Homo sapiens: one gene and its partner. The protein of the gene in region 1 purifies or fractionates together with the protein of each later gene. This does not show direct contact. Each region holds a gene or a part of one and is shown in the gene's direction. Other genes may lie near its edges. The genes, in order: CACTIN and FGF13.

Region 1 (3,643 bases):
CATAAGCCTTGACCCTGAACTGACCAAGCCTGGGCAAAGGTCCCAGCCAGAGCCGTGGCTGCTCGCCACCTTCTCAGGGTCCTTGCAGCAATAAGGGGCGTGAGAATCTCGGTGGGGGTGGGGCGCGGAGCCCCTTCGCCTCCATGCGGGTGACCCCGGCTCTGCGTCCCAGGCTGCGTGAGCGCCACCAGGACGTGCTGCGGCAGAAGCTGTACAAACTGAAGCAGGAGCAGGGCGTGGAGAGCGAGCCGCTGTTCCCCATCCTCAAGCAGGAGCCCCAGTCCCCCAGCCGCAGGTAGGCCCGGCCGGCACCCCGGGGACGCCGATGCAGACGCGGAGCAGGATGGAGGGGCCGTGGGCAGCCTCCGCGCCTCCAACGCTCTCTCCTCCCAGCCTGGAGCCTGAGGACGCGGCGCCCACCCCGCCCGGGCCCTCCTCGGAGGGCGGCCCCGCGGAGGCCGAGGTGGACGGCGCGACCCCGACAGAGGGCGACGGCGACGGGGACGGTGAGGGCGAGGGCGAGGGCGAGGCGGTGCTCATGGAGGAGGACCTGATCCAGCAGAGCCTGGACGACTACGACGCCGGCAGGTACAGCCCGCGGCTGCTCACGGCGCACGAGCTGCCACTGGACGCGCACGTGCTGGAACCGGATGAGGACCTGCAGCGCCTGCAGCTCTCGCGCCAGCAGCTCCAGGTCACGGGTAAGGGCGGGGCTGGAGGCCAGGGGGTGGGGCCAGTGGGGCGAGCTGGGGGCGGGGCTTCTCCAGCCTCATTTCCCGGCCGAAGCCGCTGGCGTCAGTGGGGAGCTGCTTGCTGCTTCTCCCCCGGGTCTCTGAGCGTGCATTCCGTCACCTGCACGCGCACTGGGGCGTTCCTTCATTCATCCTGGGCTTGCTGGCCCACTGGCCTTGGGGCCACAGGTGGTGGAAGCTTTTACCGGCCGCTGTCCGAGCACTCCCTGGGCAGCCTCCGTCCTAAGACAGAGGAGAAAATACTGGCTTCAGAAAACCCCTGGGCCAGGACCCCCTCGGGGGTCATGCGTGGGGCTGGATCCCGCAGCCAGGCCCTAACCACCAGGTTCTCCTGTCGCTCGGCGGGGAAGCGCGCTGCGCTTGGTCCCCACCCAGGAGGACGATAGACATGAAGACCAAGGTCCGGGGCTCGGGGCGGATGGTGTGGGTCTCCGGGTCGCCCAGGCCCTGTCCCCTCCCCATGTGCCTTAGCTCGCCCCAGCCTGTTTTCCTTTTGCGGGAGGCACCAGCGGCCGCCCCTGCCAGAGAGGCTAGGAGGGAGGCCAGGACCCAGGGGGAGGCCGAGGCCCGGGTGAACGCCGTCCCGCCCGCAGGAGACGCCAGCGAGAGCGCCGAGGACATCTTCTTCCGGCGGGCCAAGGAGGGCATGGGCCAGGACGAGGCGCAGTTCAGCGTGGAGATGCCACTCACCGGCAAGGCCTACCTGTGGGCCGACAAGTACCGGCCACGCAAGCCGCGCTTCTTCAACCGCGTGCACACGGGCTTCGAGTGGAACAAGTACAACCAGACGCACTACGACTTTGACAACCCACCGCCCAAGATCGTGCAGGGATACAAGTTCAACATCTTCTACCCCGACCTCATCGACAAGCGCTCCACGCCCGAGTACTTCCTGGAGGCCTGCGCCGACAACAAGGATTTCGCCATCCTGCGCTTCCACGCGGGGCCGCCCTACGAGGACATCGCTTTCAAGATCGTCAACCGCGAGTGGGAATACTCGCACCGCCACGGCTTCCGCTGCCAGTTTGCCAACGGCATCTTCCAGCTGTGGTTTCACTTCAAGCGCTACCGCTATCGGCGGTGACGGCCCTGGGGAACGGCAGGCAGGTGTCCTCGGGGGCACAGTAAAGGGGCTTCGGTGAAGCTGGTGGTCACTCCGGGGCCGCTGTCTGGGCTGCAGGGCCGCGGGTTCACGTCCCACCTCAGGCCGCATCTTTCTTTCGCCAGGCCTCAGTTTCCTCCTATATAAAAGGGGGGTCACCATTGAGCCTGCCATGGTGAGCTGAGGAGACACTGGGACAGGCTGGCCTAGGGTCCTGATGCAACGGAGGGGGCGCTAGGGGCATCTTTCGAGCACGAGGGTGGCCAGCAGCCGCCAGCTGACCTCACCGTCCAGGCGGACACTCTCCACCGCCCCTCAGCCAGGCTGGGTGGGGCCCACAGGGCCTGCCCCAAGTGGCGGCCACACAGGGTGTTGTGGAGATGGGCCAGAGGGGCCTGGGCTTGGCGGTGCCAGGCTCGTGAGAAGCAGGAAACTCAAGGCCAGCCCTGCCACATCACGGGGCACCCACTGGGCGTGAGGCAGAGCCCGCGGCTGTGGGGCAGCTCCAGCCCTGCCCACAGGCCACCCTCGCCCGCACAGGCAGCACTGAGGCCGGGACCCTGCTGGCGCCCGATCCGCCACTGCAGAAGAGACCCTCTGTGGACACCCACACTCTGCAGGGACTGGCCCCCAACTCACCCCGTGCTGGCTGGTGGGGTCCATTTCCCCGCAGCGGGTATGGAGGATGCGTCGAGGTCCCTGTCTCTGTCAAGGTCGTGGGAACCAAAAGTCACTGAGCCGTCCTCCCCCCACCTCTGAGCACAGGGCCTGGAGGGCAGGGGCTCCCCGAAGGCTGGGGGTTGGAGAAGGGTGAGGGGCTTCCCCCAGGGATCCCCCCACCTGGCCTGCTCACGGGGCCTTGGAGCATGAGACCAGTGACCCCGAGTTTTGCCCATATCAGGACAGTGGCTCCTTCTCACTCCCCTTTCTCAGGCCAGGAGGGCCGAGGGCCACACGGGTGCCACAGCCCAGGTCGGAGTGGCCCAGCCGGCAGGCTTGTTCTTCAGCATCCGACGGGAACATCTCCAACAGAAGCAAAACGGAAAGTGCCTCCCGGACCCCCAGAGGGCCACCCAACCTCACCAGTCACCAGCCCCAGACCACCCACAGCCCCTCCCAGACACCCCGCCTCATCTGGAAATAGTTCCGTTTGTTTCTCTAAAAAGACTTGTAGGTGGGAAAAAAAATCTTTTGTTCTCATGGAATTGGCCTATTGGCAAGATCGCATGTTTTTTTAATAAACGTTGTATTTTAGAATAATCTTAGGTTTGCAGAAATGCAGAGAGTGTAACGTGTCCGACGCCCCACACCCGCTGCCCTAGTTGCTGCTGGCATTTGTGACACAGCGCATTTGTCCCAAGGGAAGAGCCTGGGAAACAACACGGCACCCAACTGGGGCCCGGTGGTCCCTTGGGAGCTGTGTTAGTGCCCGGATCTGTCTTTGCCCCCCACCCCTCTGCCTTGCCTCCCACAGTGGGGGTGACAGTCCATTTCCCAGACGACAGGAGGGAGGGTACAAGGGTGGACACAGCTGCTGGCCTGGGCCCAGGCTCTCATGGGGGCAGCGCTTGGCCATGCCTGGGGGCATTCGTGGTGGTCCCACCTTGGGGCTGCTCCTGGCGTGGAGTGAGTGGAGGCCAGGGATGCTGCCCAATGTGCTTCAGTGCCCAGGATGAGCCTCCCCAAATGTCCTCACTGCAGTAGGCAGAGGTGCAAGGCAGATCCTGCACTCCCCTGGGGCACTGGTCACCTCCCAGCCCCCACCTCTAACAGGATCCCGGAAGTCTGT
Region 2 (3,820 bases), on another chromosome or scaffold:
TCCAAATCATTGTTCTCTTTGCAGAGCCTCAGCTTAAGGGTATAGTTACCAAGCTATACAGCCGACAAGGCTACCACTTGCAGCTGCAGGCGGATGGAACCATTGATGGCACCAAAGATGAGGACAGCACTTACAGTAAGTGACTGCAAAATAAATAGTATATGCCAGCATGTTGTTAACATTCTGTTTTTATTTATTTTAAAAATAAATACGCTTTCCTAAATCCTGAATTAAATGCAAAATATATTCACACTACATAATCCTGTTTACACAGGTTAACCTAAAGGAAGTTGAATATGAGTCTGTCTAAGATAGTAAACTAGGGCAAATAATGTTGACACCATCTGAAGAATAATCCAAATGTCATCTCCATGGAAATCTAGATAGATTTATGGCTATCCTTTGGATTTTATTACTTTTTTCCCACAGAAAATTTACTCACCCACACACTGATCCAGAAATAGCATGTTATCTCTACTCTTAAGAACCGGTCTTAACCCAAGAGAGAGGAGTGGTTTCATACCATGAAAATTCATCATTACAAGCTTTCACTTCTGCTCCCTGCTCCACACACACACTGATAACTCTGAGACTAGTGGAATTTTAACATTGAGATACCTCCGCAGGTGGGTAAAGGGATTTCTTTTAGTTCTTTCTTTTTAACCATGGTTTCAGACCAAATTGGAGACTATAATGGTGAGCCTAAAAAAGAAACACATAAAAAATAATTAGGTTTTATTTCCAATTACTGAAAGAAGGTGATTCCAAGATGTTACGTAACCTTTAATTACATGTTTTATTTATTAGGAGTAATAAAAATATAAACTCACAAATAGTGCAGGCTTCTCCTCAATGATGATTGATGTTTTCTTGCAATTTACAGATTTCTGGAGACTTACTAAATGTTCCACAAGGCTAAAACACTTAGTTCTCACAATTTTTTTTGTTTTCTCCAATTTCTACTGAATTTCTCTCAAACCCTTTGATAATTTCGCATTAATATTCCAATTGTCGGCTGAGAAAATAACCAAGGAAACTAGGTCTGAATGCTAAGCAGTATACTCTGCAGCTTTTTAAGAGTTGTATGGCTACAGCAATGCCATTGACGAGGGTCTCAATAAGTGTAAAGAGTTTCCCACCTTTTAGGAATGCTTCGTGGGCTGATGGCCGATCTATAACCTCGAGAGGAAGTCACTTTTAATTACCATTGAAGAAAGCTTTGTTGGTATGGAGGATGAAAAAACCTCATACTGAATGGTTCTTCACTGTTTTGCAAAAGTTCTATGTCACTGTTGTGATATTAAAGTTTTATAGTAAATCCTAGTTGTTCTTTTATGCATAGTCTTCTATTTGAAACTATTAGGCAAGTGTAACTAGAGGGCTTTACTGTAATCAAATAACAGACATTAGTGTATAGTGATCATCTGCAATAAAACATTCCCATAAGTTATTGTGCAAATTGATATTTGGGGAAGGAATTAGGGGATGTAAGCTGCCCTGCTTTCCAGAGTGCCTCAGGAAAATGGGTCTGTTGAGCATTATTGAAGGCAAGTTCATGATTAGCTGCCAGTGAGCCTATCCAGTCACGTTTCTTTCCCCTTTTTAACATCTCCGGGTACAAATCAGAGAAGAAATATTTTGGATCTGGTGTTCACATGTGTTTCCTGAAAAGAAATAAAAAAAAAGTAGATAATTCATGTGCTGTGTCCTATGAACAGCAATATACCAAATTCATCGAGATCACATTCTAAGTAATCATTTTAAGAGATACACACACACACACCACACACGCATATATCAAGGCTCCATTTCTTACTGTGGAGCTTTAAATCATACAGTAGGTTTTACTCTTCAGTTCCTACATATGCATAGCTTCTGCCTTTGGTTGTCTTATAACTGACTGATACGCATGGCATTTCTGTGTACTACTAATGATATTGAAAGACCATTAAAGAACATAGCCTGATAACAGGAATCTGTATTTAGGCAGATTAAAATAGAGAGGTAAGTCAACTAAAGGTAAGTATTGTCATAACCTGATGCATACAAATGGAAAGTATCTCAATAGAAATAGCAAGTCAGTAGAGCTTGGATCTGCTCCTGATGTTAAGAGTGACCAGAAGCTAGTGAGCTAGCTCAGCTTTGCCATTGAGGATATTGTGGGGCATAAGCCATCATGAAACAAGAAGGTTTAATGATTAAACTGGTATATCATGAAGGCCAGCTATCCAAATGTATTCTTTTTTTTTCCTTAAAACCAAGCCGTTTTATTGGTATTAATTGTTTAATTGTGCATAACGAGAATACAAGTTGTTTTTTTCAACTATCACTCATGTATATAATATTTCCCTAATATGTATTCGTGATACTATGTTTATATTTTTCTTACTCTTCTTATTTTTATTAACCTTCATTATTTTCAGCATATTTTCTCATTTAGTTTAATTTGATTGAATTGCGTTATTTTTATTCAGACATAGTAAGCAATGTCCTGATAAATCAGTTCACATTTATCCAGATATATCCATTTCTGAAAACATATGTTTGATATTATGCATTTCACCTTACCTTACGTAGATTTATTACAATGATAAATGTCAGTTCAATAAAATCTCATCATGAGGAAATCAGCCATTGTAAATTATGTATTTTCCCTTGAAAAGGAAAAGATGATAGACATTCCATGGCAGTAATTTTATTATGTCTGCCCTGGGTGCAAGGAAGGACATTTTAAAAGACTAGTTTTCCCTTTCTCTTCAAACTCACGGTAGCATTATCAGTTCAACATGTTGCCTTTCCAACCTACGTTAATATATACTTTCATTAATTATTCTCTTTTGAGAAATTGACCTTGGCCAACTGATGAAGAAGCATGGCTTCAGTGTTGCCTTCAGCAAACACTGGGTGCCAACTAGGTACATGGCTCTGATTAAGTGGCCCTTCAAATAGAAGGTGTTTGTTTTTATGCAGACATAACAGAGAACAAACAAGAAACACAGGCACATTTATGTTTTAAAAGCTTCTTCAAAACTTTCACTGAAATGGAAGAAGAGATTTTAGGTATTTAATGAATGTGTTTTAAATCCATAAATGAAGTCAACTGTTTTCTTCTCATGTTTATAGTATTTTTATCCTGATCAAAATAATATATTAAATCCATGAGGAAAGGTACCAGATATAGAGAAACAAAAGCACATAGGAGGATATTTATTTGGTTTAAGCTCACCCCTGATATAATTTCTTTGCATTTTTATCTGGGCAGACTGTCCCTTTAGACATATTTTAAACAAACCCGGTTTATGATCTATCTTGAATGTTTAAAGAAATGAAAAGATCGTAGTAGTATGATCAGTCAATCCCTAGATTCGCTACTCTCAACAAGTTTTTATTTTGGGGTGATGTTTTTTGTTTTTTAATCAGGCTTCATGGAAATTTAAAGTACATAGTGAAAAGTACATAGTTTTGCTATATAGTTAATACCATTATTCAAGATTAAATAATCACAGGAATGTACTGCTGATGTTTTTTTCTTCTATTCCTCCTTCTGTTTTCTGATGTTTGAAATTTAGACATTTCATTGCTCATTAAAACCTGAGTCAGAGTGATTGGAGAACACGGTGAAAATCAAATCAGTTTTTTTTAGTCTCTCTCTGTTTCTTTCTTGTGCTTGTTATAAGCTGCATTAAGAGAACTAAGAAAGTTCATAATATTATTTTAAAAACTGAAGTTCTATAAATAATTCTGAATTTCATTTATCATTCTCTGTCATTTATTACTATGACTAAACTAGGTGTCAAGCATATACTGATATTATAGTTGT

What was found.
Region 2: the proteins of CACTIN (region 1) and FGF13 purify together in Homo sapiens (co-immunoprecipitation; one large-scale study listed by IntAct). This does not show direct contact.

What each region holds. Positions count from the first base shown.
Region 1 is NC_000019.10:3,610,116-3,613,758, reverse strand, and holds the end of CACTIN (splicing factor Cactin), read left to right. Parts: exon of another isoform or gene 1-172; coding exon 173-295; exon of another isoform or gene 296-393; coding exon 394-701; exon of another isoform or gene 702-974; intron 975-1,345; coding exon 1,346-1,836; 3' UTR 1,837-3,114; downstream 3,115-3,643. UniProt on the Homo sapiens protein: Plays a role in pre-mRNA splicing by facilitating excision of a subset of introns. Required for the splicing of CDCA5/Sororin, a regulator of sister chromatid cohesion. Involved in the regulation of innate immune response.
Region 2 is NC_000023.11:138,705,133-138,708,952, reverse strand, and holds part of FGF13 (fibroblast growth factor 13), read left to right. Parts: intron 1-24; coding exon 25-135; intron 136-3,820. UniProt on the Homo sapiens protein: Microtubule-binding protein which directly binds tubulin and is involved in both polymerization and stabilization of microtubules.